Linked DNA regions of Homo sapiens. The protein of the gene in region 1 purifies or fractionates together with the protein of each later gene. This does not show direct contact. Each region holds a gene or a part of one and is shown in the gene's direction. Other genes may lie near its edges. The genes, in order: TPCN2, AGBL5, ZDHHC18, ANKRD27, ZRANB3, TRAPPC8 and FBXO10.

The links.
Region 2: the proteins of TPCN2 (region 1) and AGBL5 purify together in Homo sapiens (affinity purification with mass spectrometry; 2 studies listed by BioGRID and IntAct, with this or other methods). This does not show direct contact.
Region 3: the proteins of TPCN2 (region 1) and ZDHHC18 purify together in Homo sapiens (affinity purification with mass spectrometry; 2 studies listed by BioGRID and IntAct, with this or other methods). This does not show direct contact.
Region 4: the proteins of TPCN2 (region 1) and ANKRD27 purify together in Homo sapiens (affinity purification with mass spectrometry; 2 studies listed by BioGRID and IntAct, with this or other methods). This does not show direct contact.
Region 5: the proteins of TPCN2 (region 1) and ZRANB3 purify together in Homo sapiens (affinity purification with mass spectrometry; 2 studies listed by BioGRID and IntAct, with this or other methods). This does not show direct contact.
Region 6: the proteins of TPCN2 (region 1) and TRAPPC8 purify together in Homo sapiens (affinity purification with mass spectrometry; 2 studies listed by BioGRID and IntAct, with this or other methods). This does not show direct contact.
Region 7: the proteins of TPCN2 (region 1) and FBXO10 purify together in Homo sapiens (affinity purification with mass spectrometry; 2 studies listed by BioGRID and IntAct, with this or other methods). This does not show direct contact.

Annotation. Positions count from the first base shown.
Region 1 is NC_000011.10:69,065,932-69,069,431, forward strand, and holds part of TPCN2 (two pore channel protein 2), read left to right. Parts: intron 1-1,571; coding exon 1,572-1,674; intron 1,675-3,500. UniProt on the Homo sapiens protein: Intracellular channel initially characterized as a non-selective Ca(2+)-permeable channel activated by NAADP (nicotinic acid adenine dinucleotide phosphate), it is also a highly-selective Na(+) channel activated directly by PI(3,5)P2 (phosphatidylinositol 3,5-bisphosphate).
Region 2 is NC_000002.12:27,058,168-27,061,667, forward strand, and holds part of AGBL5 (cytosolic carboxypeptidase-like protein 5), read left to right. Parts: intron 1-232; coding exon 233-435; intron 436-1,022; coding exon 1,023-1,237; coding exon of another isoform or gene 1,238-1,302; exon of another isoform or gene 1,303-1,368; intron 1,369-3,500. UniProt on the Homo sapiens protein: Metallocarboxypeptidase that mediates deglutamylation of tubulin and non-tubulin target proteins.
Region 3 is NC_000001.11:26,829,688-26,833,187, forward strand, and holds part of ZDHHC18 (palmitoyltransferase ZDHHC18), read left to right. Parts: intron 1-2,759; coding exon 2,760-2,920; intron 2,921-3,500. UniProt on the Homo sapiens protein: Palmitoyltransferase that catalyzes the addition of palmitate onto various protein substrates, such as CGAS, HRAS and LCK. Acts as a negative regulator of the cGAS-STING pathway be mediating palmitoylation and inactivation of CGAS.
Region 4 is NC_000019.10:32,665,181-32,668,680, reverse strand, and holds part of ANKRD27 (ankyrin repeat domain-containing protein 27), read left to right. Parts: intron 1-3,500. UniProt on the Homo sapiens protein: May be a guanine exchange factor (GEF) for Rab21, Rab32 and Rab38 and regulate endosome dynamics.
Region 5 is NC_000002.12:135,528,419-135,532,707, reverse strand, and holds the start of ZRANB3 (DNA annealing helicase and endonuclease ZRANB3), read left to right. Parts: upstream 1-1,489; 5' UTR 1,490-1,581; intron 1,582-1,977; exon of another isoform or gene 1,978-2,210; intron 2,211-4,289. UniProt on the Homo sapiens protein: DNA annealing helicase and endonuclease required to maintain genome stability at stalled or collapsed replication forks by facilitating fork restart and limiting inappropriate recombination that could occur during template switching events.
Region 6 is NC_000018.10:31,873,629-31,877,128, reverse strand, and holds part of TRAPPC8 (trafficking protein particle complex subunit 8), read left to right. Parts: intron 1-2,424; coding exon 2,425-2,649; intron 2,650-3,500. UniProt on the Homo sapiens protein: Plays a role in endoplasmic reticulum to Golgi apparatus trafficking at a very early stage. Maintains together with TBC1D14 the cycling pool of ATG9 required for initiation of autophagy. Involved in collagen secretion.
Region 7 is NC_000009.12:37,513,887-37,517,380, reverse strand, and holds part of FBXO10 (F-box only protein 10), read left to right. Parts: intron 1-1,295; coding exon 1,296-1,477; intron 1,478-3,494. UniProt on the Homo sapiens protein: Substrate-recognition component of the SCF (SKP1-CUL1-F-box protein)-type E3 ubiquitin ligase complex. Mediates the ubiquitination and degradation of BCL2, an antiapoptotic protein, thereby playing a role in apoptosis by controlling the stability of BCL2.

The DNA of each region.
Region 1 (3,500 bases):
GCAGGAGGTACGGGAAGTCATGCCTAGGGTCTGGAGCTGAATTGTAGAGGAGGAGCGTGAGGCCTGCTGGGAGGTACACAGTGTGGGGTGGGAGATGGGCCGGGGCAGGGCCACCTGCCTTAGGGAGTTCTGTCGGCTCTATGGACCTCAGCGTCTGTTAGGTGGTGTGCCTCAGCTGGCTCGAAGCCTGGCCCTAAACCTTGCTCCATGGGCGCTCGGTGGGTTGCTTTACATTTGGGAACGTGGTGGTTTGACTGGGTGAGGGTGGGACGGGGGATGCCCGGGAGGCCTGGACCCAGTGCTGTGGTCCTGCCGTCCCCGGTGACTGCTGGAGGCCAGCCTGCCCTCCAGGCCTCGGAAGGCCTTGCTCTGCTCCTCCACTCTGGCTTGGGCTGAGGCCCAGGAGGGGCCCGCCTAGCTCTCCCCAGCAGGGGAGCCTGTCCCTACCCGTGGCTCTGTGCCTGACAGCGCTCCCTGCCTTCTAACTTCCTCTCAGTGGCCCCTGTGCCCCCTCCCCCAGCAGACTGTGGAGTCTTCACCAATTAGCTCACGTGTCCTTGGGAGCCCCTGACTGGACAGACGAGGGGACAGTGCCATTTTATAGGTGAGGCCTTGGAGGCCTCAGTGCTATTGATGCGGCTGTGAGGCAGGAAGGGCGGCCTGTGCGACAGAGAGTGGCCATCACAGGTGCCTCCATGCCAGGGCCTGCCTGCGGGGTTGCCCCTTGGCCAGCAGCTGGGATTGTGGCTTTGAAACGATCCCTAAGAGAGGAGGTTGCTTTGTGTGCCAAGTCCCGCTGTGCCACCTGCCCCCACAGTTCATACAACCAGTCTGGTTTGCGGGAACCACCCATCTTCCAGCTGGGGGGTCTGGAGGCTTGGTAGGCAGAGGGTGCCCATGAGCCTGGCCCCAGTGAGAGCCCCGGGCCCGGAGTCTCAAGCAGAGTTGCTTTCCGAGCAGAAACACTGCATGTGCCAGCTGTGTTTTGTGGCTGGGACCCCTCTCAGGAGGGAGAGAGGATAGGGACTCCGGTGTGGATGCCCCCTTACCAATGGCTGTGATTCGCCACAGCCACGAGCACAGTGCCACTGAGTCCCGTGGGTGGCTATGGGCGGCCGTGGGCCCTGACACACAGCCTCTAGAGCAGGCTTCACGAAGGGTCCAACCTATCTCACCCTGGCAGCCTGGGCCCCTCTGCTCCTCCTGCCCCTCCTGCCTCTGCCCCGTAGCCTCACTGCTTGCACAGTGCATGGCAGAGTCGGCTGCGAGCAGGCGAGGTGGCCTGAGGGAGGTCACTAGGCTGGCTGAGGGCTTTTTGCTGTGGTTCTGAGCCGGCCTGCTTCCAGGCACCGTGTCCATGCGGGTGAGCGGTCTCCCTGGGTGCCCACTCTTGCGCCCGGAGATCCTGAGTTTGGTCCTGTCTGGCCATGAGCTCAGCCTGCTGGGAGGCCACAGGGAGATGCAGGCTGGGCGGCGGGTGGATGGTTCCAGCCGGTTGGGTCCGGGGCCTGGAGCTCAGCCTGTGGGGTGGGGACCCAGTGGTGCCCTGGAGCTGCCGCTTCTGCTCTTAGCAGGATGATGGGCAGGACAGGGAGAGGCTGACCTACTTCCAGAACCTGCCTGAGTCTCTGACTTCCCTCCTGGTGCTGCTGACCACGGCCAACAACCCCGATGGTGCGTGCAGGGCCAGGGAGGGACCGTGGGGGTCGGTGAGCCCAGCACTGGGGGGCCGGTTTGGGCTGCTGAGCCTTAGAACCCAGTGGGAGTTTCTGAGGCCTTTTTTTCGATAAGTGGAGAAGAAAGGGTGACATTTTCCTTCCTCCCCTTCTTTTCCTATCTCTTCTTTTTTTGTCTTGGTTTTCTTCTCCCTCTCTCTTGTCCCTTCTCTTTCCTTCTTTCCTTTTCTGTCTCATTCCTTTGCTTTCTCACTCCCTCCTCCCTTTTTCTTTTCATCTCCTCTTCCTCCTTGTCTACTCACTCCTCTGAGAAGCTGAAAGTGGCTGGTGTTCTTCATAGGGCGATGATGGCAGTGGTCAGAGGGGTCTCCTGGTGCCGTCCTGCTGGAGCTCCACACATCCACGCTGCGGTTGCTGCCGAGGTTCAGCTGTGGGAGCCACTGGGCAGCAGCATGTGAGGGCCAAGGGTCTTACTGGCCACGACGCTCACCCTGTGTGATGCTCATGGGGCCTCCACTGCTCAGGTGCAGGTGTGGCCAGGATGGAGGCCACGGTCCTGGGCTTGGCTGTGGCCCAGCCACCCTGGCTGGTGCCTTTCATCTTGCGGACCCTGAGTGCTGTCTCTTGTGTCCTCTGAGTCCTAGGAAGTGACCGCAGTGGGAGCAGGACCGTCTGAGTCCTAGGAAGTGACCGCACTGGGAGCAGGGCCGTCTGAGTCCTAGGAAGTGACCGCACTGGGAGCAGGACCGTCTGAGTCCTAGGAAGTGACCGCAGTGGGAGCAGGACCGTCTGAGTCCTAGGAAGTGACCGCACTGGGAGCAGGACCGTCTGAGTCCTAGGAAGTGACCGCAGTGGGAGCAGGACCGTCTGAGTCCTAGGAAGTGACCGCAGTGGGAGCAGGACCGTCTGAGTCCTAGGAAGTGACCGCACTGGGAGCAGGACCGTCTGAGTCCTAGGAAGTGACCGCAGTGGGAGCAGGACCGTCTGAGTCCTAGGAAGTGACCGCAGTGGGAGCAGGACCGTCTGAGTCCTAGGAAGTGACCGCAGTGGGAACAGGACCGTCTGAGTCCTAGGAAGTGACCGCAGTGGGAGCAGGACCGTCTGAGTCCTAGGAAGTGACCGCAGTGGGAGCAGGACCGTCTGAGTCCTAGGAAGTGACCACAGGGGGAGCAGGACCGTCTGAGTCCTAGGAAGTGACCGCAGTGGGAGCAGGACCGTCTGAGTCCTAGGAAGTGACCGCACTGGGAGCAGGACCGTCTGAGTCCTAGGAAGTGACCGCACTGGGAGCAGGACCGTCTGAGTCCTAGGAAGTGACCGCACTGGGAGCAGGACCGTCTGAGTCCTAGGAAGTTACCGCACTGGGAGCAGGACTGTCTGAGTCCTAGGAAGTGACCGCAGTGGGAGCAGGACTGTCTGAGTCCTAGGAAGTGACCGCAGTGGGAGCAGGACTGTCTGAGTCCTAGGAAGTGACCACAGGGGGAGCAGGACTATCTGAGTCCTAGGAAGTGACCGCAGTGGGAGCAGGACTGTCTGAGTCCTAGGAAGTGACCGCAGTGGGAGCAGGACTGTCTGAGTCCTAGCAAGTGACACAGGGGGAGCAGGACCGTCTGAGTCCTAGGAAGTGACCGCAGTGGGAGCAGGACCGTCTGAGTCCTAGGAAGTGACCGCACTGGGAGCAGGACCGTCTGAGTCCTAGGAAGTGACCGCAGTGGGAGCAGGACCATCTGAGTCCTAGGAAGTTACCGCAGTGGGAGCAGGGCCGTCTGAGTCCTAGGAAGTGACCGCAGTGGGAGCAGGACCGTCTGAGTCCTAGGAAGTGACCGC
Region 2 (3,500 bases), on another chromosome or scaffold:
AAAGGACACACTTTGCCCCTCATAATGGAAGAGGGCCCCCAAATTGGCGGTAGTTTAGGGAACAGCTCCAAATCCGTTTGCAATAAACAGCCTGGGCACAAAGGTTAGGGCATCCAATGAGCAAATTATAGGTCTGGCCCCTCCTTCCCTTCCACTGTGCTGTGTACCCACCCCAAGGTAGCAGCCTGGATGGGAGGACCAGCATGCTGAGCCAAACTGGACTACCCCACAGGTGGGACGAGCTATGGCCATTGCAGCCCTGGACATGGCGGAATGTAATCCGTGGCCCCGAATTGTACTGTCAGAGCACAGCAGCCTTACTAATCTACGGGCCTGGATGCTGAAACATGTACGCAACAGCCGAGGCCTAAGCAGCACTCTGAATGTGGGTGTCAACAAGAAGAGGGGCCTTCGAACTCCACCCAAAAGTCACAAGTAAGGCCAGCAAAATAGGAGGGAGAAAGGGTAGGACAGTGGGACAGGGCTCTAGAGCTAGGAGTTCCAAGGGATTTATATTCCTTCCATCCTCCTCAAAGTGCCAAATGGCAAATATCTTCAGGGTAAATTAAAATTAGTCAGATTAGTTTATTCTTTTAGAATGGGATCCTCTTCCCTTTTATTCTGAGCTACATACACCTAAGAGATCTGAGTATCAGGCTTGGGATTCACTGCTGCAGAGCCCTGTACAAAATCAAATATAATTGCAGTGGGGCAGGCCTCAGCTTCCAAGGGTTGTGAATGACTGACTGAAGGGAGTTCAAGGGTCAGTGCCAAGGCAGTAGGGGTGAAATTCATTGGGAGATAAAGCTGCTCAGGGATGGCCCTTAAGACATTTTGAGATTAGCTGGTATTCCCCAGGTTAGATACTTCATCCACGGACATGAATTCCTCACTTCTTCCTTGGGATGGGTCCCTGTGCCTTTTTACCCCAGAGGTGAAGCTTTACTGAGCAGCAGATCCTAGGGAAAGCCTTAGGACACAACCTTCCTGGCCCGGGTTAACTGGCATCTGCTTCTTTGCAGTGGGTTGCCTGTCTCCTGCTCCGAAAACACCTTGAGTCGGGCACGAAGTTTTAGCACCGGCACAAGTGCCGGTGGTAGCAGCAGCAGCCAACAAAATTCTCCACAGATGAAGAATTCCCCCAGCTTTCCTTTTCATGGCAGTCGGCCTGCAGGGCTGCCAGGCCTGGGCTCTAGTACCCAAAAGGTCACCCACCGGGTGCTGGGCCCCGTCAGAGGTAAGCCAGTCTGGGAGCCCCTGCAACATGTGTTCGGTTGTCTGGGGCATTGCTGGGGGAAGTAAGAGCTTGAAGATATACTGTTGGCCCAGGACCAAGGGGTGAATCAATAAAATTAGTTTGTAGCAGAACCTGTGGCCTCTCCTACGACCTTGGTGTTCCCTGCGGCATGATTCCAGAGCGGTATTGTGTGTGGCCAGAGGGGGAAGTCTGGGTATCTGGGCTTCAGTGCATGCTAGGAGCCAGGGAAGTTTCCAAGGATGAAACACTAGCTGAAGCAGTGCCAAACAGGACATGGAGCCTCCACGTCACGGACAATGTCAGTCTGTCTTCATGGGGGCAGTTAAGGGAATGTCCTCAGAATCCAAACTGCAGTACTGTAGAATGATGGGGAATCTTATCTGTGGTCTTTATGGGCTGAAATTTTTCCTGGCTTCAGAGCTCATTAAGGAAGTGATACCGGGCTGGGTGCAGTGGCTCATGCTTATAATCCCAGCACTATGGGAGGCTGAGGCAGACAGATCACTTGAGGCCAGGAGTTCAAGAACAGCCTGGCCAACATGGCGAAACCCCGTCTCTATTAAAAATACAAAAATGAGCCAGGCATGGTGGTGCACACCTGTAATCCCAGCTATTCAGGTAACTGAGGCAGGAGAATCGCTTGAACCCAGGAGGCAGAAGTTGCAGTGAGCCAAGATCGTGCCACTGCACTCCAGCCTGGGCAACAGAGCAAGACTCTGCCTCAAAAAAAGAAAAGAAAGTGATATCAGAAGGATTCTAACTCTTCCAAAGAAAAATGGAACAACTGCAGACAATTTCTTTTCTAGGTATAAAATGCAGCAGTCTAGCTCTTTCCAGCAGTGAGCACAGTTGCTTAACTGTGCATTAGTAACCCCCAGGTTTTGCCTGATGAGACCCTGCCTGATAAGATTCTGGGTCAAAATTATATACCAGAAACAGATGGGCCTTTAGGGAAAAAGAAGAGAAAATTAACGGGAGTAACCTGGATTGCGGAGGGGGAGAGATTGTTATAGTGCCACTTCTGGAAATACGCTAAACCACAAATCAATACTGTACTGGCCTCTGCACTACAGAAGTCTTGCCCAGAGTATGGAGGCTTGTCAGCTGGGGCTAAGAGCTTTGCTGGTCTTCCAGCATACTCATCCTTGTTAGCTTTTCCCAGCTTGCACCCTAGCTGTTGGTACAGACCAGACATGTGCTGTGTCAGTGGCTGTGTAAATCTGACTGCTAGTGAGAGAAGCCATGGAGGAGAGGGCAATGGTCCTTACCAGCTGTGACCATTGAGATATTCTATCCCTGACAGGCAACTTGATTATCTGCTTCCAGGCCCCATTGTTTGAGAGTCTATCTTCATCAGGAAAGGACACTTGTGCACTGTGTTTGAAAAATAATAATAATGCCTTATGTTTACATAGCATTTAACAGTGAACAAGATAATATCATATATATAAATTTCATTTAATCCTCACAAAGACGCTATGGGATGGATGTTGTTTCCATTTTTCCAACAAGTAAACTGAGGCTATTTAAGAGTGGTTTCTCCAAGATTGCACAGCTGTTCCAACTTGTATCTTCTCATGCTCCAGTGGCCTAGTTTCCCATGGTAAATCTGCTTAAAGTTTTTCTTCTGTTTCTTTTCCTTTCCTTCTTTTTTTGAGACAGAGTTTCACTCTTTCACCCAGGCCGGAGTGAAGTGGTGTGATCTCAGCTCACTGCAACCTTCCACCCCCTGGGTTCAAGCGATTCCCCTGCTTTAGCCTCCCGAGTAGCTGGGATTACAGGTGCATGCCACCACATCCAGCTAATTTTTTTTTTTTTTTTTTTTTTTTGAGACCGAGTCTTGCTCTGTTGCCCAGGCTGGAGTGCAGTGGTGCGATCTTGGCTCACTGCAACCTCTGCCTCCCAGGTTCAAGTGATTCTCCTGCCTCAGCCTCCGGAATAGCTGGGACTACAGGCAAACGCCACCACGTCTGGCTAATTTTTGTACTTTTAGTAGAGACGGGGTTTCACCACGTTGGTCAGGCTGGTCTTGAACTCCTGACCTCGTGATCGCCTGCCTCGGCCTCCCAAAGTGTTGGAATTACAGGCGTGAGCCACTGTGCCCGGCCAATTTTTGTATTTTTAGTAGAGACGGGTTTCACCATGTTGGCCAGGCTGGTCCTGAACTCTTGACCTCAGGTGATCCACCAGCCTCATCCTCCCAAAGTGCTAGGATTACAGGCGTGAGCCATTGCACCCAACC
Region 3 (3,500 bases), on another chromosome or scaffold:
CCTGGTATGCAGTAGGTGCTCAATACTTATTGAATGAATGAATTGACAGTGTATTTGAATTAATTGACAGTGTATTTGCTGGGAGGCTGGAAACCCTAGTTCTGTCATTGGCTGGCTAGATGACCTTGAACCTAGCTGTGGGCCTGGGAGAGCTGTTAGCCTCTGGCAAATCAGGAGGCTAGGACTTGGTGGTTCCTGCAGGCTCTACAAGTCTTAGATTTCAAGTCTTCTCTGTCCCCCCACACAAGTCTGATTGCATATGAACTGGATTCATTGCCATGTGGGTGACACTGAGCGCCCACTGGTTCTGTTTGAGGGTCAGACCCAGAAACCATTGAGATGTATGGAGCAGAGTGTGACCCACTGGGAGCCCTTGGCCTTGGCAGTCTGCTCCTCAGGGGAAGGGCTTCTCTGAAGGCCAGAGCATCTGATGACGGAGACTTCAGAAGCAGCATGCAGGTGCCCACAGGTGTGTGCCTACTGTGCCACTCCTGGAAGCTTGGTTGATCTCAGGCCTCCCAGGGCCCCGTCATCTCCTTACCTGATCAGGTGCTACTCTGGCTATGGGGTGATGGTTAAAAGTATGAACCTCAAAGTCAGACCTGGCTTGGGTCCCACTTTAGCACTCCTGAGCCATGTGACCTTGGGCAGATTACTTAAACTCTCTGAGCTCTAGTTTCTTCATCTGTAAAGTGGGGAGCATAACTTCACAGGGTCCCAGTGAGGATTTGATGAGAAAGTACACAGGAACTGCTTAGCCTGGTACCTGGCCCATCCAGGTACAGTAGTACAGTAACTATCTGTAGATAGTACAGTAACTATCTACATAGTACAGTAACTATCTGTACATAGCACAGTAACTATCTGTACTTTGGATGTTGCTAACAGTAGTTTATTAATTAGGGCAGTGTCTGGCACATAGTAAGCCTTCAAAAGATGGTAGCTATTTTTCTGTCCCCTGGCAGCAGTTATTTACCGGGTACGTCCTTGGTGCCAGGTGCTGTGCAGTGTGCTGGAAATATAAAGCTGAACAAGAGAACATAGTCTATACCCACAGAGGAGCTTATGTTTTTTTATGTTTGTTTGTTGTTGTTGTTGTTGTTGTTGTTGTTGAGATAGAGTTTTGCTCTTGTTGCCTAGGCTGGAGTGCAATGGCACGATCTCGGCTCACTGCAACCTCTGCCTCCCGGGTTCAAGTGATTCTCCTGTCTCAGCCTCCTGAGTAGCTGGGATTACAGGCACATGCTACCACACCCTGCTAATTTTTCTGTTTTTATTAGAGATGGGGTTTCATCTTATTGGTCAGGCTGGTCTCGAACTCCTGACCTCAGGTATCCGCCCACCTCAGCCTCCCAAAGTGCTGGGATTGCAGGCGTGAGCCACTGCGCCTGGCCAAGCTTATGTTTTAGTGAGAGAAAAATAGCCATCACATAGACAAGTAGCTGAAATCTATACTAAATGTTATACAGGAAAGAAAGAGCATTGAAGTTCACTGTGTACAGAGTTGTCAAGGTAGGTCCTTCTGAGGAGGGAAGAGGAATCTGAGAAAAGGAACAGCAAGTGCAAAGGCCCTGAGGTAGGAGAGAGCCAGGCTTGTTATAGGAACTGTCATGGGCTATTGTGATGGGAGGAGCAGGAGCAAGACGAGAGTTTTGTAGAATGAGGCTGAAGTCCTCAGTAGGGCCCAGATCATGCCTGGCCTAGAAGGCCATGGTAGGGAGTTTGGATTGTATTCAAACTATATGGAAAGCAATTGGGAGGTTTTAAGCAGGGAAATGACATGATCTGATTGACATTTCCAAAAGTGGCTCTGGCTTCTGGGTGGACAGTGAGGTGACAACAGAGAGGATTGGCCATAGAGAGAGAGCCCTGATAGCTTCACTATCATGAAGCCATTCTCCCACCAGTGTCCAGAACTTCTAGAATGTTCTAGCCCTAAGATGGAGGAGGGAGCTTGAAGAGGGCTGTGGTAGGCAGCCTCCCTGGGGGACAGAGGCATGACCATTCAGCAGGCACAGGCTATTCTCTGAGGCAGCCAGGGTCAGGGGGTCTGAAAGCACTGCCTTGGGGATACCTGCCTACCTTGGGTCACAGTGACAGTGGCTGGACCATGCAGTTCCCCCAGCCCTCTACTCATTCTTCAGGTTGGAGCTTAGGATTGTCTCCTTCAGGTTGCCTTTCCTGACTGTGCTACTGCGTTCCCCTCCCCCACTAGAGCACACATCACCCTGTGTGGCAATTCCCTGTTTACATGTCTTGTTTTCCCCACTAGACCATAAGCCACAAGGGGGAGGGACTCTTGTCTTATCCGTCGTCATTATTCCTGCTGCTTATTGAAGGTGTTGCCTGCCACAGAGAAGACCTCAGTAAATATTTGTGGACTGAGTGAGTGAATGAATGAGTGAATGAACACTGCAGGATGGTTTGTCTCAGGTGACAGTCCACTAGTGTCTGCCTGAAGCTCTGTGTGTAGAGGGATTCTCTGGATGCAGAGGTTAGGAGTGCTGGGATCTATTGGACACATCTGCCATGTGCTCTGGAGGAAAGTATATCACAAGGATCAATTAGTGATGTCTGTTCCCGGTACTTATTGGGGAGTGGCTGCACTCATCAAGGAGCTGTGCCTCTGCCTCAGAGCGAGGCTGTATTCAAGATTTTGGTGGTGGTTGTTGGAATGACAGCGCCTGCCACGTGCTGTAGCCCTGTGCCGCAGGGAGCCCTTGGGGTGTCTGCTGATCTCTCTCCATCTCTCGTTCTAGCTGTCCCTACCTGGCTCGCAAGCTGACCCTTGCCATCCCCATCATCGCTGCCATCCTCTTCTTCTTCGTCATGAGCTGCCTGCTGCAGACAAGCTTCACCGACCCTGGGATCCTGCCCCGGGCCACTGTCTGTGAAGCAGCCGCCCTGGAGAAACAGATCGGTGAGGTTTCTACTCCCAGCTGAAGCTGGGTCTCCATAGCTCCACATTCCCTGACTTGGGAGGAGGCCTGGTTTTCTCTTCCAAAACTATACTAGGAACTGGGGATGCAGTCGTGAGCAAGGCAGGCTGGAGCTGACACTGGCACAGAGGGAGACAGATGATCAACAAGTGAGCAAATAAGTAAGCAAGAAATGCTGGCCAGCCAGCAAAGGCCCCGATGGCAGCCAGCGTGGAGCTGAGTAGTTCCTGGGGGCTAGGCACTGTTTTAAGCTCTTTATATGCATGATCTTATTTAATCCCCCAGTAATCCTATGAGGTAGGTACTGTTGTCATTCTCCTTTTACTGATTAATTAAATCAAGGCAAAAGAGGGTCCAAGATCACAAAGTAAGTAGAAGAGCTGAGATGAGACCTCAGTCTAGAGCACCTGCTCTTAAACATTCATATACACTTATTCATTCACTCATCAAACATTTATTGACCCCCTACTATGTGCCAGGCACTTTTCTAGATGTGATACAGCAGTGAACAAAACTGACAATAGTCCCTGTCCTCATGGAGCTTGACAGTTGAGGAGGAGG
Region 4 (3,500 bases), on another chromosome or scaffold:
AACTTAGTGAGACCCCATCTCTACAAAGAATAAAAAAAAAATTAGCTAGGCATGGTGGCTCATGCCTGTAGTCCCAACTACTTGGGAGGCTGAGGCAGGAGGATCACCTCAGCCCAGGAGGTCAAGGCTGTAGTGAGCTGTGATTGTACCAGTGTACTCCAGTGTGAGTGATAGAGCAAGACCCGTCTCAAAAAAAAAAAAAAAAGATGAAGATAAGACTGGGCACAGTGGCTTATGCCTTGTAACCCCAGCACATTGGGAGGCCAGGGCAGGAGGCTCACTTGAGGTCAGGAGTTTGAGACCAGCCTGGGCAACATAGTGAGACACTGTTTCTACCAAAAACAAAACAAAACAAAAAATTTAGGCTTGGCCAGGTGGCTCATACCCGTAATTGTGGCACTTTAGGAGGCTAAGGTGGGAGGATTGCTTGAGGCCAGGAGTTTGAGGGTGCAGTGAGCTATGATTGTGTCACTGTACTCCAGCCTGGTCAGTAGAGTGAGACCCCAACTCATAAATAAATGAAGGTAAGTAAGTAAAGATGAGGATGTATAGAAGTTATTGCAGTGCCTGGTACAAGGACTCTCCCAAATGGTGGCTATTTTTACCATTAGTTCCAAGGAATAGAATTCATCATGCAGTTATGTATGCATAGTGTTTTCCCAAGGAAGCATTCTGGATCCCTGTTACATAGTGAGAGAGTAGCTCCTATTTCATATTTCATTCATTTAATTGTATCAAGGATAAATTCACTTTTACGCTTTTTAAATAGTTGCTGATTTTCTCATTTTAATGAAGAGAGAAGGCCCCAGGCTCAAGCTTAGCATCTAATGACTTTTTTTTTTTTTTTTGAGACGGAGTTTCACTCTTGTCGCCCAGGCTGGAGTGCAATGGCATGATCTCGGCTTACTGCAACCTCCATCTCCTGGATTCAAGCGATTCTCCTGCTTCAGCCTCCTGAGTAGCTGAGATTACAAGTGTGTGCCACCACGCCCGGCTAATTTTTGTATTTTTAATAGAGATGGGGTTTCACCACGTTGGCCAGGCTGGATCCGCCCACCTCGGCCTCCGAAAGTGCTGGGATTATGAGGTTTTAAATAACAGTAATTACCTTTATAATTTTTAACTTTAAGATGATCTTCTCTTCGTTGGAAGTGATACCATTTTTCTATTTAAAGTAGTAATAAGATTTCTTTTTAAAATAAATTTTAGGCCAAGGATGGTGGCATATGCCTGTTGAGCCAGGAGTTCAAGACCACCCTGGGCAACACAGCGAGACTCCATTTCTACAAAAGTAAACAAAAATAAAACAGAAAGGAAAATACATTTTTATAAAGACAATAAGTTATTGAAGGAAAATGTCAAACACTAGCAAGAGAGCCATTATGTGTAATTGTTGGGCAAAATTGTGCTCACATTGTGGGCAGGTTGTTCACTGCCCAGCAGCAGGGGCCGTGCAGCATGTTACCTAGGAGCTGCTCACTAGCCTAGTGCCCTTGCACAGAGCTGCGCCCCCTGGGAAGTCGGGTGCCTGTTTCTAATTCTCACAAAGGTCCCATGTGAGCTTGCAGTAACTGGTGCTATGTTGATATGCAGTACTGCATGTCACAGATAGTGAAGGTGGCATGGAAATGACCCTCATAAGAGTCCTGCAGACAGGTATTAGCATTCTCTGTGGTGCAGGCCCAGATGGAGGCTCAGAGAGGTGGGATGACGTGGTTAGAAATCTGATCTCCTGGCTGGGCATGGTGGCTCACGCCTGTAATCCCAGCACTTTGGGAGGCCGAGGTGGGCGGATCACTTGAGGTCAGGAGTTTGAGACCAGCGTGGCCATCATGATGAAACCCCGTCTCTACTAAAAATAAAAAAATTAGCCGGGAGTGGTAGTGCACACCTGTAATCCCAGCTACGAGGGAGGCTGAGGCAGCAGGAGAATTACTTGATCACAGGGGTGGAGGTTGCAGTGAGCCGAGATTGCACCACTGCACTCCAGCCTGGGCAACAGAGTGAGACTCTGTCTCAAAAAAAAAAAAAAAAAAAAATAGAAATCTGATTTCCTTTTCTGTGCCCATTTTGTAGGCACCCCCTCTGAGAGCTCATTGGCTCAGAGGAGCAGACCAGGGGTGATGAGGAGCAGCTATAGAATGTTTCATGAAACACACAAAGCACTGGTTCACATTAGTTAGCAGCATGGAGCAGTCTGCAGACAGCAACATCCTTCAAACAGCTTACTTCCTAAAGTGAGTTGAACACTGACCTGTAATCTTCTTTTGGCCGTTCACAGACCTTTCAGTCATGAATCATGGAAGGGTCTTCTCTGGCTTCAGAAGTCCCAGTTCTGATGGTAGTGGTAGGTGTGTTCCATACTGATTCTTATTTTATCTGTACAGCGTGACTCTGATGTAAGTCCATTTGGCTTTTGCTTTTAGAACCTTACCTAAAATAAGCAATCTAATTTTAGCAACCCCTTTCACAACAGCAGCAAAGTCTATACAGAATATATAAATAGTCTAATAAAAGTCGTATACGATCCTTATGGAAAAGTCGGAGGACATCGAAGAAGACATTCATGGAAAGATATACCATGTATGTGGATGATAAAATTCATAATTATAGGGCTGAGTGTGGTGGCTCACGCCTGTAATCCCAACAGTTTGGGAGGCCGAGGTAGGAAGATCACTTGAAGCCAGGAGTTCAAGACCAGCCTGGCCAACATGGCGAAACCCCGTCTCTACCAAAAAATACACACAAAAAGTTAGCTGGTGTTGTGGCGTGTAGTCTGTAGTCTGAGCTACTTGGGAGGCCGAGGTACGAGAATTGCTTGAACCCAGGAAGCAGAGGTTGCAGTGAGCCAATATTGCGCCACTGTACTCCAGCCTGGGCAGCAGAGCAAGACCTCTGTCTCGAAAAACAAAAAAAACGGCAGGCTGGGCGCGGTGGCTCATGCCTGTAATCCCAGCACTTTGTGAGGCCAAGGCGGGCGGATCACGAGGTCAGGAGATCGAGACCATCCTGGCTAACACAGCGAAACCCCATCTCTACTAAAAATACAAAAAATTAGCTGGGCATGGTGGTGGGCGCCTGTAGTCCCAGCTACTTGAGAGGCTGAGGCAGGAGAATGGCGTGAACCCTGGAGGCAGAGCTTGCTGTGAGTCAAGATCATGCCACTGTACTCCAGCCTGGGTGACAGAGCAAGACTCTGTCTCAAACAAACAAACAAACAAAAATTAGCCTGGTGTGGTGGCGGGTGCCTGTAATCCCAGCTACTTGGGAGGCTGAGGCAGGAGAATTGCTTGAACCCGGGAGGCAAAGGTTGCAGTGAGCTGAGATTGTGCCACTGCACTTTAGTGTGGGTGAGAGAGCGAGACTCTGTCTCAAAAAAAAAAAAAAAAAATTCATGAATTTAGTGCGGGTCCAATAAAAATCCTAATAGGATTTTTCATGTAATTGACAAGGTGATTCTGATTCATTTGATATTGTAAAGGACAAGGAATAACCTTTGG
Region 5 (4,289 bases), on another chromosome or scaffold:
CATATTATAAATGGGTAGACTTTCAGTTTGACTTTAATCATCTTTTCATTTAAAAGTTTTTGTCATCAATGATATTTAAGCTAAAAAAGGTTTCTTACAGTTACAATTAGGTAAACTATAACCATGAAGATATATATATATATATTTAGAAAATTTTATTAGAAAAACCATTTGCTGTTCACTAATCCTAATTTGGAAAGCACCTCTTCTTCACCTTTTACTTAACTATCCCAGGACAATTACACACGGAGCATGATAGTCCCAATAATTTAAGTTTCTTTATAAAAACAAGCTCAACAGAGTCACCCTTTGCACCTAGTCACAGCAACAAAAGAAAACAAAACACCAAAAAACTTCAAAGCCCACAAAGATTTGTTGGCAGCCTAAGGCTCAGGAATCAAAACGTGTGTAAATCTGATCCCGGGGGACCGTGGCACTGACAGTCATTCAACTTTCTTTTTAATATTCCCATTGTGCTTTTTCTGGTACCACAGGGAAAATGTACCTACATTTTACCAACCGGTCGAAGCTGAAAATTCTCTTGGTGCAAGGCCAGGGGATGCGGCCGTGGGGCGGCCGGGGGAGCCCGGGGCACCGGCGCCAGCCACACGAGAGAGCAGTACCACGCTCTTGGCAGGCCTGCTGTGGCTGGCTCCCGAGTCCCTGGGGCTGCAAGAGCAGCCGCGGAGGCAGCAGCAGCAGCCATGGCAGGGACTCGGAAACCTTTCCCCTGCCTCCTCCGCTAGGCCTCGAGGGGTTTGCTTTTCACATGGCCCCCGGGTGGGGGCGGTGGGCACAAGGCAGTGGCTGCAGCTGCAGCCGGAGCCGCAGCCGCGGGCCAGGCGAGCCTGGCTCACTCGGAACCCGACCTAACGGCGGGCTGGCAGCAGCGGGACGTCAGAAGGCCCTGGCTGAAGCGCCGACGACCCGGCGGGGAAGGCCACCTTTCCACACACCACATCTCTCCCCTGCCTGCCTCCTTCTCCGTTAGCGCTACCGGTTGGCGGGCGGGGGAGGGGAGCAAGGCGCGTTATTCCCGGGGAGCTGGACGGGGGAGGGAAGGGCATCTCTTACCCGCGTTACTGAGGAGGAGGAGGCGGTTGGAGCGCGGCGCGGCGGGGCGACGGCGGGGCTGGGTGGGTGCAAGTAAGAGTCTTACGAAAGGGAATTAACCCCATCACCAGCCCGGACACCGGCTCCAGCGGCAGCCGCGGCTGGCAGAATCCCGCCCCTTCCCACCACGCACTAGCCCCGCCTCTTCGTTCTCTTTGAGCGGCAGCCGACTATTCATAGGTTGTACGTCCCCGGAGTGACATGAGTTTTGCCCAATCAAGCTTGAAAAAAACTGTCTTCTCTCCACCCCTTTACCTCCTCCCAGGCCGCGGAGAGCCGTGCCAAATCTTCCTCCAACCTCAAGAGAAAAAGAACCAATCCGTGGTAAGTAACCGCCCTTGAAGGACGCAAAAGCCAACCAATGGTAAAACTAGGAGGACAGCCATTTTGCCCACTTGTAAAAGAGCTACCTTTTCCCACGAGTTGGAGCCTGAGGTGCGGAGTTTCGTGAGTTTTTACTGACTCGAGGTATTTAAAAGACAACCAGATCTCCTCAGTGGGTATTTATAGTGCTTTTTAGGGGTAAAGGAAAATTATCCTCCATGTGGGGCGAAGTGAGGCATGCTGCTTAAGGGGTTGGCTCCTCCCCTTAGCGCTAACGGGTTCTGAAACGAACACCTGGTTTCTCCAGCTTCAGTGGCGGAGGGCGGGGTGATTGCTCTTTTCGGCCTGGAGCGGACTACGATTCCCAACATGCTTTTCCCCTACTCATAACTTCTCCTCCGTTCACTTGTCGCGGTGCTTGGCTGGAATTGTAGTTCCTGAGAGGTACCCATGCCGCCGCTTCAGCCAATGAAAAGGGACAGAGTTTTGAATGACTTGAAATTAGGGCGGAGAACGAGTTGTCGCGAGGCTGTACAGAGCCCTTTTCGCAACCCTAACGGGAGAGAAGTGATGGAAGAAGGGTAGCCGGAAGAGTTTCCTCAAAATACCATAGGGGTTTTAAATTATTAGTACGTATTTAAACTCATCTACTTTCACGTTGTCCCGTTGAACGTCACTTCCGCTTAGGGGCGGACACGTCCCAAACCTGTGGCGGGAGTTGGAGATTCTGCGGCGAATACGCCAGGTGTGACTGGCTGGAAGTGGCGTGGCTGGCAAGTCGCTAGTTTCTTGCATGGGAGATAAAAAGTTGAACGGAATTTAATGGCATTTTAAGAAAGAGTGGGTGACATGGGATGGGGGTAATTTCCAGGGCCCTTATTACTTTCTCCACCCCGGCCTTCAATCGCGGGCGTCTCGGCCTGCTCGCTATTAGATTGCACGGCTAAATTTGTAGAAAGTACCTCTACTGCCTTTAGTCTTCGCGTGGTCAGTTTGAACTGTAAAGACAGGGCTCCGAAGTTCTGAACTACATTTACAGACACACTTTTTTTTTTTTTTTTTGAGACGGAGTCTTGCTCTGTCCCCAGGCTGGAGTGCAGTGGTGGGATCTTGGCTCACTGATTCACGCCATTCTCCTGTCTCAGCCTCCGGAGTAGCTGGGATTACAGGCGCGCGCCACTCAGCCCAGCTAATTTTTTGTATTTTTAGTAGAGACGGGGTTTCACCATGTTGGCCAGGATGGTCTCGATCTCCTGACCTCGTGATCCGCCCACCTTGGCCTCCCAAAGTGCTGGGATTACAGGCGTGAGCCACCGCGCCCGGCCACAAACACACTTCTAAAGTCAGCTTGGAAGGAAAAGAGTCACAGAAAAGGGCTTTTCTGTTTGAAGGATTGATAATCAAGAGTGGCCCCATCACCACTCTTTGAGTAACGACCATTTATTAAACGAGTGGCAGACAGGCGCGGTGGCTCAGACCTGTAATCCTAGCACTTTGGGAGGCCGAGGCGGGAGGATTACTTGAGGTCAGGAGTTCGAGACCAGCCTGGGCAACATGGTGAAATCTTGTGTCTGCTAAAAACTCACACACACACATTAGCCGGACGTGGTGGCAGAGATCTGTAGGATCTGTAGTCCCAGCTACACGGGAGGCTGAGGCAGGAGAATCGCTTCAACTTCGGAAGTGGTTACAGTGACCCGAGATCGCGCCACTGCACTCCAGCCTCGGGTGACAGAGCGAGACTCCGTCTCAAAACAAAAACAAAAACAAAAAACGTGTGACTACAGGGTGCCAACTATAATACACCGATGAATAAAGGCATCACTAAAAAGATGCCTTTATTCATCGGCCACATGGAGCCCACAGCCTAATAATCTTAGCACGTAAGGCCCTGATTTATGCCTCCTTCAGAGTTCAAGGGCGACTGTATGTATACTTTTGGACATTCCATTTAAGGTACCCAGGAAAACTGATTGAATAAAGAAGATACAAGTTACAGAAAAGGGTTTTTCCCTCCCTATGCGTGTGCCCTTTATTCTTAAACTCTTTGCTTTATTATTTTGACTGAGACTTTCTCAGATAAATTCTAATTCAGTTTACTCCATGATTTTACTGAGATTTTCTCTTATAAATCCTGTTGTATTTATGGTATGAGCGCTTAACACTGTATTGGGTACTATACCAGACTTTGGGTAGAGCAGTGCCTAAAAAGACAGGCTCCTTGTCCAAAAGTTGTGAGGAAGAGAGAGGCTAAACAAAATTGTAATGTCACTTACTGTTTCAATCTCTAAGTCAAGTCTTCTTTAGTCACATTTTGTATGTTTATTTGGTCCCTTCTTTACATTCTACCTTTGGATTAAAATAAGCACGTTTTCCTCTTTGCATTGTTTTTACTAAAGCACTAATCTGTGTCCAATACTAACGAGTGATGTTTGTATACAAAGTAAGATGGTAAATTTTATAGTGTAATCCTGCTAGATATAGGAATGTAACCATACCTTGCAGCAAGACATTTTTGTAGATCTACCAGGCAAAGTGTTGTCTCTTGCTTTTTAATGCAATTAGGATATTCAGTGATAATTTAGCAATGCAGTCTACTGTAGATGCTTAGTTTTTTTTTTTATTTGTTTGTGTCAGGAGTTCTTCCAGTGTAAATCTAGTCACTAAATAGTAATGATGGCCATCATTTTATTGAGTTTCGTCTGAGCCAGAAATGATGTTATGTGTGATAAGTACATTTTCCTTATGACAAACTGTAAGTCTTCTTGACATTTTTATATTTGAAGAAAGTGAGGCTCAATGAAGGTAAATAAGACTTGTAGAGGTCTGACCTGGTGGCTCATACCTGTAAT
Region 6 (3,500 bases), on another chromosome or scaffold:
CCTTTGTCTCAAGGTGGGGCTTTGGCAGGCTACTGTCCCCCCTTCCCCTAGGGGCAGCCTAAATTAACGGTTACATCTCCATGGGTCTCACACCTTCTCTGGGGACCCACTGGTCTCCTAAACTTGCTAATGTCACAGCAGTTGTGAATATGTTAGGGATCTGGTGGTGCGGTGGTGACTCAAGAGCAGAGATTTCCTGGGCAGGGCAGTGGTATCTCCTGTCTCAGTTCAGGCCTGAAAGGAGGGCGGGCATGCCTGTGTGAGCTGGCCACCCACATCCTTGTCCCTGGGACGTTCTCAAACTGCCACTGTTAGTGTTGTCCTGCATCATGAGGGCAGAGGGACTCCCCATCAGTTGGATGGTGAACAGATGGTCAGAGGGGTGAGGGCAGCAGAGAAGTACTCCCACTTACCCTTTCCATGGGGTTTTGTGTTCCTCAGCACTCGATCCCTGCCAAACTCTTGTTGTTTTTCTTTCCTGCACTCTAGTTTCTTTCCATGGGTTCTTCATCATATCCTGGCTGTCTTTTCTCAGTTTTCTGTTTGGATAATTAGTTACTTTGATCTTTCTGAGGAGAACTGGCATCTGAGGATCTGAGGTCCCTAGTAAGTGATCTTTTTTTTTTTTTTTTTTTTTTTGAGATGGAGTCTCGCAGTGTAGCCCAGGCTGGAGTGCAGTGGCACAATCTTGGCTTACTGTAAGCTCCGCCTCCTAGGTTTATGCCATTCTCTTGCCTCAGCCTCCTGAGTAGCTGGGACTTCAGGCGCCCGCCACCATGCCCGGCTAATTTTTTGTATTTTTAGTAGAGACAGTGTTTCACCATGATAGCCAGGATGGTCTCAATCTCCTGACCTCATGATCTGCCCGCCTCAGCCTTCCAAAGTGCTGGGATTACAGGCGTGAGCCACCCCTCCCGGCTGTAAGCGATCTTGAAGAAAATACTCTCCTTTTAAAAAAATTGATACATAATAAACATACATAGTTTGGGGTATAATACGTGATAATTTCATACATTCATATAATTTATAAAGATCAAGTCAGTGAACTTGGGATATCCATCACCTTAGAACCATTCAAATTCTCTATTTTGAAATGTAGAGTAGATGGTTGTAAACTATAGTCACCCTGCTGATCTGTCTAACGCTAGGTCTTATTTCTTCTATCAAACCATGTATTTGTACCCATTAATCAACTTCATTCTCTATCACCCACTCTCCCTGGCCTTTGGTAACCACCAGTCCACTCTCTATTTTCATGAAATCCACTGTTTTAGCTCCCACATATGAGTGAGAACATGCAGGATCTGTCTTTCTGTGTACCTCTTTTGATTTTTTACATTGATGATGTTTATTGCCACAAATATTGCATTCTTATTGCAATACTTGTAAGATTTTGGCATTCCTTGCAATTTTCCATTTTGAACACACATCTTGTATATCATTCTGGTATATTATTAATCTCTTGCTCTTCTTAAGTCCTGCAGTAAATGCACTGAATACCAGGAAGTATGCCCTGACACTTGCCAACAGCACCTTGAAAAGGAGGCTGTGGTAGCACCTGATGCTGGCAGAGAACCCCGTCATGTCTTGCCCAGGCAGTGTTTACTGTGCTGCTGTCCTAGCCCACTGCTTTATTTGAACCGTGTGAGGCATAACCTTTCAGTGGTCACAACACTGGCCAGTGAGTTCTGGCAGGCAGGCAGGCAGGCAGGCAGGCTGGGATCAGCATGGTTGGTCCAGTATGTGAATTTTTAATATAGAAAAAAAAAGTTTATTTATATATTATTATATATACTACTATATATATTATTATATATTATTTGTACTGTGGAAAACTGTGGCATATGTGGCCACATACATTCAATGTAAGTCTCTGATCGTAGGCAAGAAAAAACTTTGATAAATGTGTTTATTGTTTTACTTAATATGGAGAAACTCTTTGTAGACATAGCATGCTTCTAGTTAAAGTATGAGAACATTTTTTTCATCATCATATTAGTGAAATCTGACCATTTTAAATGTTGAAGTTTGTTTACATATCCCTTGCCTTTTTCCAGAAAGAATTTAAGGTAGATAAAGTCAAGTTGAGAAGTAAGCTCTTTCCTCTGAAGTTGACGTTTTGAAATTGTGGCTCAGAGAAGTAGTGGGTAAATGTCAAAGCAGTCTGGCCTCCCTTTTCTTCCTTTAGGTACCCTACTCCTATCTAACGCACACACACAATGGCTCAGGTAACTTTATCTATATCATTCCATATATAATTGTGAAGGGATTATCATAAATGTTAGTTTTATTTTCTTCATTATCCCAGTCCCCCTTAGAGGAAGAACCAGTTACTTAATTGTTTCTATGTGTGTGTTTGTATTTGTTTTTTCTAGTTCAAACAAATTTGGAGTATAATACATTATTTTGTTTATTTTCTTACAGAAAAAGCATGCTTTACGCTGTTATTGTCAAGCCATGCAAGTTTACAAAGGAAAAGGCTGGTCTCTTGCAGAGGATCACATTAATTTCACTATTGGGCGCCAGTCCTATACTCTTAGACAGCTGGATAATGCTGTGTCTGCTTTTAGGCATATTCTAATTAATGAAAGTAAACAATCTGCTGCTCAACAGGGGGCTTTCCTCAGAGAATATCTTTATGTTTACAAGGTGACTGCTTATTTTCATTCAGGAATAGATATTAAAACTGTATTTTAGTGTGAAAGTATTTATTTATTACCATATCTTACGATAGTTTTATTAGAATATATGTAGTTATCAGTCATAAAAAAGCTGTGGCAGGCTAGGCTTTTTGGCTATAGATCTTGGTTACATTGCCCCTTCCACAGTTCTTGAAAAGAGAATTTTAATATTACAATGAACACTTGATTTGTGGCTGTTCTTAGAATCTTAAAAAAAAAAAAGATTCCACAGGTTTTCTGGATTCTTTATTCATCATGCTTTTATAGACTCACAACTGATTTTACAGTTGGTTTTAAGTGGGTTCTCTTTACCATCCTTTGGAGATGGACATTCTATGTTCTTTTCCTTGTGAAAGATGAGGGGGTATGGATCTGTGGAAAGTAGACAGGCTATTATGGTGCAATGGAGAAAAATTAACAGGAAGAAGGACTGTTTCACTGAGGCAAGCAGATAAACATATAAAGCATTGTTTTATGGAAAAAATGGGAAGTTGTAAATTTTTTCCCAAGGCCTATGAATAGTGCATATTATATCTATCGTGCAGAAAATAACTACCTTTAGGGTCTAGACTTTATTAATTTGAAATTATATGGGTTAGAATTTTGGCAGATAGGATGCTATAATGAGTCATAAGAAGTAAAACGCTTACTAAAATAAGTTTTGCATATTTAACATCCAGGTAATTAGCTGAGTAACCTCAGTAAGATTCTTTTGAGGCAGAATAAATATCTGAAGTGCTTCTGAGTTGTAAAATTTTATGACTGATATGAGAAATAAAACTAGTAATTACATATCTTAATATTCTTGCTTAACATATT
Region 7 (3,494 bases), on another chromosome or scaffold:
GGCTCTATTTTTATTTTTAGTTCAACAGTTTTTGGGGTACAGGTGGTTTTTGGTTATATGGATAAGTTCTTTAGTGGTGAATTCTGAGATTTTGGTGCCCCTGTCACTCAAGCAGTGTACACTGTACCCAATATATAGTCTTTTATCCCTCACCCTGCTCCCACCCTTCCCCCTGAGTCACCAAAGTCCATTATATCATTCTTATGCCTTTTCTTCGTCATTAGCATAGCTCCCACTTATAAGTAGTGAGCAAGTAAGGACATAGGATATTTGGTTTTCCGTTTCTGAGTTACTTCTCTTAGAATAATGGCCTCCAAGTCCATCCAAATTGCTGCAAAGGCTGTTATTTCATTCTGTTTTATGGCTGAGTAGTATTCTGTGGTATATATATACCACCTTTTTTTTGTTTTTTTTTTTTTTGAGATGGAGTTTCACTCTTTTGCCCAGGCTGGAGTGCAATGACATGATCTCAGCTCACTGCAACCTCCGCCTCCCAGATTCAAGCCATTCTCCTGCCTCAGCCTCCCAAGTAGCTGGGATTACAGGCATGTGCCGCCATGCCCAGCTAATTTTGTATTTTTAGTAGAGATACCATGTTGGTCAGGCTGGTCTCAAACTCCTGACCTCAGGTGATCGATCCACCTGCCTCAGCCTCCCAAAGTGCTGGGATTACAGGTGTGAGCCACTGCACCCAGCCTATACCACATTTCTTTATCCACTCTTTGGCTGATGGGCAGTTAGGTTGGTTGCATATTTTTGCAATTGTAAATTGTCCTGCTATCAATATGCGTGTGCACATGACTTTTTTTCCTTTAGGTAGACATCCAGTAGTGGGATTGCTGGGTCGCCTAAAGCCTCTTTACAGTTCTGCAGCTTCGTGGGTTAGTGACTTTAGGCAAAGAGTAAAAATGCTGGGGCTTTGCCTCTGAGCACTGTGGGAGCAGAGGAAGGGAGAGAGGGACACACTTTCGTCTCAGTTGGGTTGCCAGTGGCCCTGACTTCTGACACTGCCTCCCCTCTCTGCCAGGCCTTTGCATATTGTTTCTCCTTCCTGCAACAGCTCTCCCTGTTGTGCATCTGATAAATGCCTACAACTCACCTATCACCTCTTCCAGGAAGCCTTCCCTGGCTCCCCCAGGCTGTTCTTGGTGCCCTTCTTTGAGCTCATAGGCTCTTCACTGACCTGCCTGGCATGTTCCTGCCTCTTGGTTTTAGAACTGATAATTCACTTGCCCAGCTCTCCCACTCAGTCTGTGAATCCCTGAGGTGTGACAATCTCTGGCTGCCTCTCCCAGGTAATAAAGAACCGGATCCACTCGTTCCGGGCCTACGGCATCGCCGTGCGGGGCCGTGCCAAGGCCCTGGTGCAGGAAAACATCATCTTCCAGGGCAAAACCAGTAAGACCATCTTTCAGCAGATCTCAAACAACCGAGAATGCATCATGCAAAACAACAAGTTCCTGGTCTTCAAGAAAAAGTGAGTGCTTGGGGTTGCCTGAACGAGTCCTCTAGAGCCACAGTAAGCTCCCTGAAGAAGCCAGGCCCACACCCAGGGATTGTGGCTGCCCGGGCTCCCTGCAACCCTGCCAGCTGTCGACTCCAGTCAGAAAAAGGCCTGTGCCTGGCTCTATGTCAGGCCCGGGCTGAGGACTCCCCAGGAGGGAACAAGCTTTTTAAGAGTCAGGGGTATGTGGTTTCAGATCTCAGCTCTGCAGGTTACTGGCTGTGTGACCTTGGGCAACTTACTTCACATCTTCGAGCCTTAGTAAAATCCATTTAATAAGATCACACTATCTGGCTGAATCTCTGAGGGGCTGTAAAAATGTTAGTTGATGCTGCTGCTGTCCTTTAGTCACTCTGCCTCAATGTATCACAATTGCCGCCACCCATCTTCCTCAAACCTGTCTGTCCTTTCACGTTCTCCATTTCAGCGACATCACCATCCACTCAGTGTTCTGACAACAAAACTTCTGCTGCCTTTTTCTCCCTAATCCGAAGATGTCCAGTCAGTCAGTCACCAGGTCTTGTTGATTCTGCTTCTAAAATGTTCCTTTTTCCAGCACCTCCTCTTCCCCAACTGCCCCCATCCTAATTCAGGTCTCAGCACCGCTCACCCTAACCTGTACCGCCTGTGTTACTGCAATGCACAGCTGTTCCAGTTGCTTCTGCTTGGGCTGTGTTCTGATTGGTCCGTGCTTTCGCTTTCACATTCTGGTTGTAAAATCATACTGATATTTGCTGTAGTTGGTATCACTCCTGCACCGCCAATGTCACCTGTCCCCCTGCAGCAGCCTCCTGCCAGTCTCCCTGCCCGTGGCCACCCCCTGCTCCACTCTGGAGGTTGTCCCATGCATCCTGCCAGGTTAATCTTTCTAAGTGAGAGCTCTGGTCAGTCACATCACATCCATGGTTTAAAACCTCTCATGGATCTTCATGTTCTGTTGTAATGATCTCCATACTTTTTGTATTACACACACTCTCGGGAAAAAATATTCTTTGAAGAAACCCCCCGATGTAGGTATACCTAATTATTTATTTATTTATTTAGAGACCAAGTCTCACTCTGTTGCCCAGGCTGCAGTGCAGTGGTGCGATCTTGGCTCACTGCAACCTCTTCCTCCCAGATTCAAGCGATCCTCCTGCCTCAGCCTCCTGAGCAGCTGGGATTACAGGCGCCCACCACCACTCCCGGCTGATTTTTGTGTTTTTAGTAGAGACAGTTTCGCCATGTTGACCAGGCTGGTCTCGAACTCCTGACCTCAGGTGATCCACCCGCCTTGGCCTCCCAAAGTATTGAGATTACAGGTGTGAGCCACCGCGCCTCACCGGTATACCTATTTATAACTTATATATGTGTATTCTAGCAGTATATTATTTACATTATAAACTATCCCCAAAATAGAAAATTTTAAAGTATACAGTTAAAAAAAACCAAAATTCTAGTATTTTCTTCCAATATCCCAGCAGATTATATTGTGGACTCCCTGGGATCCACCTCCTCCTTCCCTTTGGAGACCCCAGGGTACAGGATACAGCCCGGACTTTGCCAATGCCAGCTCTGGTATTGTCCGCTGTGTACCCTGAGGTCCTAATTGTCTTTTCCAGCCTCTCATTTCATCACTCCTTTTCAGTAGTGCTCCCCTGCTGCCAAACTCAAATACATACAGTCCTCCCAACATAGCTTAGGCCTTTTTATTCACATGCTAGTAGCCAACCTCTGATTCCGTCCACACCTTTCCAGTCCTTTCATTGTAACATCATTATCATAAAAATACATATAAGACAATGTGTTGCCTTAAGCAAATGGAGACTTAGTGTGTAAAGTTGGTTCCTTGTAACTCAAGCATCAGAAAACTCTGACCACAGCTTCACTATCATTTTATTTTCCCTGGCCCTCCATGCTCTCTACAAGAGTTTGGGTGACTGGAAACCCACCAACTTCTATCCCCCATAGATTTGCATTTTCCCAAATGTCATATAAAAGAAATCGTGGC